2 linked regions of the Homo sapiens genome follow. The protein of the gene in region 1 interacts with the protein of each later gene in a pairwise test. Each region holds a gene or a part of one and is shown on either strand. Other genes may lie near its edges.

Region 1 (2,559 bases):
CTTCTCCATGCGCTTACTTATCAAATACCTTCTATGCACTTATCTTCACAAATTATTTTACTTGTCCTGTGGTCTGTGTACCTTGTTCTATGTGGAACAGGGTGAGTCTAGCCAGGTTCACCTTCAGGATGCTTTCCCCATGCCCTGTGGTTGAGACGGCTCCGATGTCATTGTCGGCATAACCTCCAGCTCCTGCTCAAAAAGGGTGATTGTTCTGAGCAGTAACAGTCAAGAAATTCAAATCCATATTAGAAGTCGGACGCTACATGAAAGTTAAATCGCGAAGGGTGCTCAAGTACCGACAAAGGTCAGGTTAGTAGCCATGATCTGCGGAGGCAAAGGTGGACTAGAAAGCGTCATGTAGATGCCCCAGAATTTAGGAGGATAAAGGGAGCCTCAGAGGGGCAGGCCTGACCTTTCACAGAGCAGCTACAGCAGGACAGCATCTCCTTGGCCCCAAAGCACAGCCATTCCTTTTTGCTCAATGAAGCCACCCTCTCCCTGTCTCCTCCTCATGCCCCACACACTATGGAGGAAGAAACAGCATGACTGCATTATATGGATCTCTAGCAAGGCCATCATGTTCCAGTGATTTGGGGAAAATGATACCCACAACCTAACATCCATGCACACTGTCTAATGGAGGGCAGTTATATTTGTTGAGGGTGGGCATAATTGGACCTGAGGGAACTATTCTGGGCTATCCACTTAAGTGGGGGTCTGGAGTGAAAGCTACTTTGATAAGATTTCTTCCTTATTTTGGGCTTGGATTAAGCAACCTTACAGCCTTCTCTGAGTCATTCTTGTATCTGTTCACACACAGCTACCAGCCTCAGAGTCCTTTAGCCTTGGAAGGATTCGCCTTTACCCTCCCACAGTTGATACAGAAGCACAGAAGATTGACATTTGCCTTACTTATTGATGCTGGACATGGGGCAAGGACTCAGGAGTTGAGATGCTGCATTGGATTGTCACAAGGCCCCAGAGGTTCTCAAAGGCAGATAATCCCTGGCTCTGGTTCTGGAGGGAGCTGACACTGGACAGCCAATGAACTGCTGCAGTGGGAGGAGGCGCCTTTACTTTTTCTTATAAGCTTCTGCTGGGGAATTAACTGACCGGGTTCCATGGTGTCAAAGTGCCCTAATATTTGGAAGCAGCCAAGTCTTTGCTTACTTTTCAGTTACTCTAGGACCACAGAAGGCCAGGTGTCTCCAAGGGTGGTCCTGGCACAGGCATCGGGCGTGTGAAGCTGTCCTCCCCGCCACATGCACTTCTCAGGACAAGTGCATTGCCTGAGGTGACCACTGCTGAGCCTAGTACCGTCCCCCATGACTGTCCAGGCAGGGGCCTGGCCAGTGGCAGTGCTCCTTGGGGAGGCTCCTCAGAAGGCCAGGCAGAGCACACCTGGTGCTCACAGCTGGACAGAGAGTTCTGAGAATTTAGCTTATGCCTTTTCTTGTCAAGATTTACCACTGTAACTCAAGCTTAAAATTAATTTCTAGGATCTAACCTGGAGTGGCCCTGTGGCCTGGTCTGAACGCAGCTGAAGCAAGCTGCACTACTGACCAGGCACAGTTTGGTGGGATTTTTGCCAAGGAGAAAGAAAGGTAGACTACTTCACATCTCTTGGGTGATATACCAAGGAGAAGAGGAGTTACCAAGCCTCTACTCTTTTTAAGGAAGCTTCCAGTGTCTCTGAGTTCATGACAGAAAAAGGGTATCAAGAATTGTCGAGAGTGTAGATTATTACTAAAGACTAGAGCAACACATTAAAAAGGGAAGGTAGGGCTAGTTTTCCTCTAAAAGAATAAGCTGCTCTTTAGGGCAGATGGAACAATTTAGCTGCTTCTCAAAACTTCAGTCACCTGTGGGGGTTCATGAGGATTCCTGCATGACAAGTGTGAAAGTCTGCACGGAGTGAAACATACAGCCCCCCAGCCCTGCCTCTCACCCACTCCTGGGAATGAGATGGCGTGCTTCCCCGTTAATGTAAACAACATCTCAATCTATAATGTGTCTGTAGAAGTATGTCACTTTCATGCTGCTCAGATCTAACAACTGCAGTCTCAGATTTCTCAGATTGCTAATCAGAGCCCATGTCTCGGGAGTAAGTCTTACTCAAGTAAGTCTGCAGATCCTGAAACTGTGGCTAAAGAGAAGACAGAATCACGACAGGGTAGACTGGGGGCAACGTTAGCATCCCTGTCTCCACTTCTCTCCCCAAGTTGTTCCAAAAAGGCATGCAATCTAGTAAAAACAGTGGCGCCAGATACAAACACCCTCTCAAGGCAGCACCCCGAACAACCCCTTCCAACCCCATTGTCACTCCCAGACATCCTGGAGCTGCACCAAAAGCAGAAAGGGAACGCAGCAAGAAACGGAGAGGGGCAGGGAATAGAGAGTGAGGAAAGCCTGAGGGCGGGAGAAGAGGGGAAGGGGCAGGAGGCATCCCTTGGTCCTACCTAGACACGGTGAGTCCCCAACGCGGCCGACCATTTTATTAACGATACCGCCTGTGGAGGTTGCGTAGGCTACATTCCCTTTGCAGTCCAAGGCAAC
Region 2 (3,827 bases), on another chromosome or scaffold:
GAGGGAACAACCACGTTCTGAGGGCTTAACTAAAACGTTATGAGTGGGCGCTATAGAAAGACAAATCTCAGCTCACAAAAAAGAGCCTTCTGAGATGTAGCCAAGTAAAAAAGGGAAGGAGCTGCGTTGGCTGATAAAGTGCATTCCTCCGACAGGGATGTTCAGTAAGAGATTTGATGACCATTTGGCAAGGAGTAGGAAGTCAAACATTAAAGGAGGGCAGGATTAGATGGGAGCTTCTGCTCATTCGCCACACCACAGGCAGAGGATCTTTTAAAAACACAGGGCTGGCCATGTCCCTCTCCTACTAAAAGCCCTCTAACTGCTAGCCAGTGCACCAAAAGGAAAATTCAAACATTACAGGGCCTACGAGGCCCCGCATGATAAGTCCTGTCTACCTCCTTAGCTCCTATCACTCCTATTGCTCTCTCATCTCCTCTCTCCAAATCCCTTCCCCAACCCAGCACCCCTCCCTGTGCCAAACTGGCCTACTCACAAACATGCTGAGCTCCTTCTCCACCTCAGGGCCTTCACCTACCCTCTTCCCTCCGTCTGAAACGCCCTTCTCTGCTTCTTCAGGTCAAAACAGAAACGTCACTCTCCCCAGAGAGCCTTCTCAGCACCCAGTCTAAATCTAAACATTCATCTTTCCATATGAGGTCCTTTCTCTTTGGTCAATACGTAGCTAGGTTATCTAACTGGTCAAATTTCTTTCTAGCTTCTTCCCCACCCCACCCCAACTCTGTAGATAAATCACATCAAGGGCACACTTTACTTGCTCGCTCGCACCTATTGCTTGGAAGTGAATCTGAGACTGCTGGGCTGCTGTGTTGAGAGGGTCCGGCCCGAGTATTCACCTATAAGTAAAGAAAGAATCTTGATCAGTCTTGTGTTCTGAGGACACAGTTCTAATTAACCTATAATTTGCCACAAATTTCTCATTTCACTATGAAGGTTAATTAGCTTGTTGCTAGACAAACCCACAGTTGGAGTCTATTCAGTATATAGGTTACAAAACCGTATAACCCATACATTACATAATATTCTATTCCTGTCATTATTCCATTAAATACTTAAACAGTGATGAAAAAGGAGACATAAACAGTGTGAAAATCCAACTCACTGTCTAGAATACATATAAAAACAGTATGTTCAAAAAGTACATTAAGAATATACCCAGGGGTTAGTAGTGAACCTCAAGTTATATCCTTCCAGCTCTGCAACCAAGCAGAACACTGTATGTAGAATGTTTCTTATTCACTAAAAAATGAGGTCCAAATAATTAATTATGAAATATTTGAGCCTAATACAAAAGCCAGCTTTTCTTTCAGATGTGAAGCCCTAAACAGAAATCCAGAATTCAAAATACACAGAATGAAAAGACATTAACTAGATATATGTTTCTAGCATAAATATGTCAAGAGAGGGTATTCCATGTGCAATATGCTTATGTGCTTAATTAATCACTGAAATGAAGTCTATATTCTTACTAAAATCTTTGTAGATACCAGCACCTAGGATTATCCTGAAGACACTGACCAACAAAACAATTCCAAATAATTGAAAATACAGTACCAAACCCCCAGTATGCAAATATATACACATACTGAGCAAATACTACAGATGAATCCCCCTCCACCTCCCATTTAAAAAAAATAAAAGGATCGCTTGTCAGAGCTTGAGAAAGTGCAGTTTTATTTGACATTTCAATAAGTGGAACACAGCATTACAAATCCATCTAACTTTACTGAAACAATTATTGAAATTCGTACCTTCAGGCCATGTATGTTCCGTTCCCCAGGAGGCTTGCAGGCTGAAACAGTAATTGACTAAATTGTAGAACACATCAGGGCCATTTACAAATTTGCTCAAAATGAATCGTTTAAAAAGAAATGAGGGTGACACCAAAATTAGCAGAGAGAAATGATTGAAAAGTGGCTCCCAAGACCCAAAGTGGGAATTATGAACCAGGGTTTTAACTTGCAGGAGTGAGCATTTATAAATGCAAAGAGCTTTCTGACACCACCTCATATAAATTCCAATTTCTGCTTAAAACATATAAAAATCAAGTTAACTGAGCTAAAATGATTAGATTCCTTTCATAATTCAAATTTCTGCAATCTGTCCTCATTCTATTACATTGTATATCTGCTATCACTTAAACTACTTTGAAAAGAGCTAAGGGATTTTTTTGTGAGCAAGCGGGGTGAGAAAAGGATGTTTTAATGCCAAAAAGATTGCTAGGGATTCTACGATGGAACATTCTAGTTTGAATACTACTTTGCACAGCCATAAGCAGTCAAATGTATTAAAATACAGATATATAACTAATTTTATTACATTTCTTGCAAATCTTGACATATGCTAAGATTTAGTCCTAGAGATAAGGCAGTGCCAGGAAAAAAGAATATTAATTTCCTGACACCATCTTGAGTTACAGGTTAGTACTTTTCCAATTCAGCAAATGCTTCTTCAACAAATGTTAAAAATACAAAAGCCTCCTGCCCATGTTATAGACTGCTTCTATTTGAAAACTATAGTGCCCTACAAATTGTATGTTAAGGGGCCATCAATTTTGATTGATTGTTTGGGGACGAATTAATTTGATTTTTTTTTTTTTTTTTTTGCTCCTCTCTCAGATGTACATGTCGTTTTCCTGTTTCTGACAACAAGAAATAGAGCTGTTTAATAATAAGATGTGGGTAATGACTGGGTGCAGTGGCTCAAGCCTGTAATCCCAGCACTTTGGGAGGCTGAGGTGGGCTGATCATGAGGTCAAGAGATCAAGACCAACCTGGCCAATATGGTGAAACGCTGTCTCTACCTAAAATACAAAAAATTAGCTGGGCATGGTGGCGGGCGCCTGTAGTCCCAGCTACTCGGGAGGCTGAGGCAGGAGAATGTCGTGAGGCAGGAGAATGTTGTGAACCCAGGAGGCAGAGCTTGCAGTGAGCTGAGATCACGCCACTGCACTCCAGCCTGGGCGACAGAGCGAGACTCTGTGTCAAAAAAAAAAAAAAAAAAAAAAAAGGAGAAGATATGGGTAATAATTACAAAACACTGCAGTTGCTTTCATTTTGTATATTCCAAATATACTCAAATTTATTATGTTATTTTTCCTAGAAAATATATCTAAACCATAACAAAATGTTTTTACTTGCCTTTCTAAAATGCATTAAAATTAAGACTCAAAATCTTCTTTCCTTAAAATGGAAATTAACCTTTTGAACTACAGTCACATGCATTTGACGTCTGGTCCTTGAGGGACCATCAATACTTCCTAAGACAACACTTCAAAATATTTCCACTGAAGTAAGCAGTGCATTCATAAATTTCATTTAAACAAAGTGGCTAGCCAAGGAATCAGAGACAAACATCAACTCTTATCTCTAACCTTAACATCTGCCTCACTCCTCAATTGACTTCTCAAACTTTTATAACTGGAGATGTAAACAGCAGTCAAAAAACCCAGTAACCTCATATTTCCTAAAGTTATCGGGTCAGGAATTACTATAAAGCTAGTCAATGTTCACACTTATTAATATTTAACATATCTTTTAACAATGTAGAGGACTTAGCCATGACCTGGGAGTTACTATCCAAGGCAACTGTGCTACTTGGAATGAGGAGAACATGTTATTACATCAGAATTATGGCCAGGCATGGTGGCTCATGCCTTTCATCCCAGCACTTGGAGAAGTGGTGGTGGGAGGATTGCTTGAGCTCAGGAGTTTGACACCAGCCTGGGCAACACTGTGATACCTTGTCGCTATTAAAAAATTAAAAAAAAATGCCCAGCGTGGTGGCACATGCCTGTAGCCCCAGCT

The links.
Region 2: the proteins of ASRGL1 (region 1) and MAP2K5 interact in a two-hybrid assay, tested with the Homo sapiens proteins (one large-scale study listed by BioGRID and IntAct).

Annotation. Positions count from the first base shown.
Region 1 is NC_000011.10:62,389,155-62,391,713, reverse strand, and holds part of ASRGL1 (isoaspartyl peptidase/L-asparaginase), read right to left. Parts: coding exon 2,463-2,559; intron 215-2,462; coding exon of another isoform or gene 193-214; coding exon 82-192; exon of another isoform or gene 81-81; intron 1-80. UniProt on the Homo sapiens protein: Has both L-asparaginase and beta-aspartyl peptidase activity. May be involved in the production of L-aspartate, which can act as an excitatory neurotransmitter in some brain regions. Is highly active with L-Asp beta-methyl ester.
Region 2 is NC_000015.10:67,583,876-67,587,702, reverse strand, and holds part of MAP2K5 (dual specificity mitogen-activated protein kinase kinase 5), read right to left. Parts: intron 1,814-3,827; coding exon 1,773-1,813; intron 858-1,772; coding exon 790-857; intron 1-789. UniProt on the Homo sapiens protein: Acts as a scaffold for the formation of a ternary MAP3K2/MAP3K3-MAP3K5-MAPK7 signaling complex.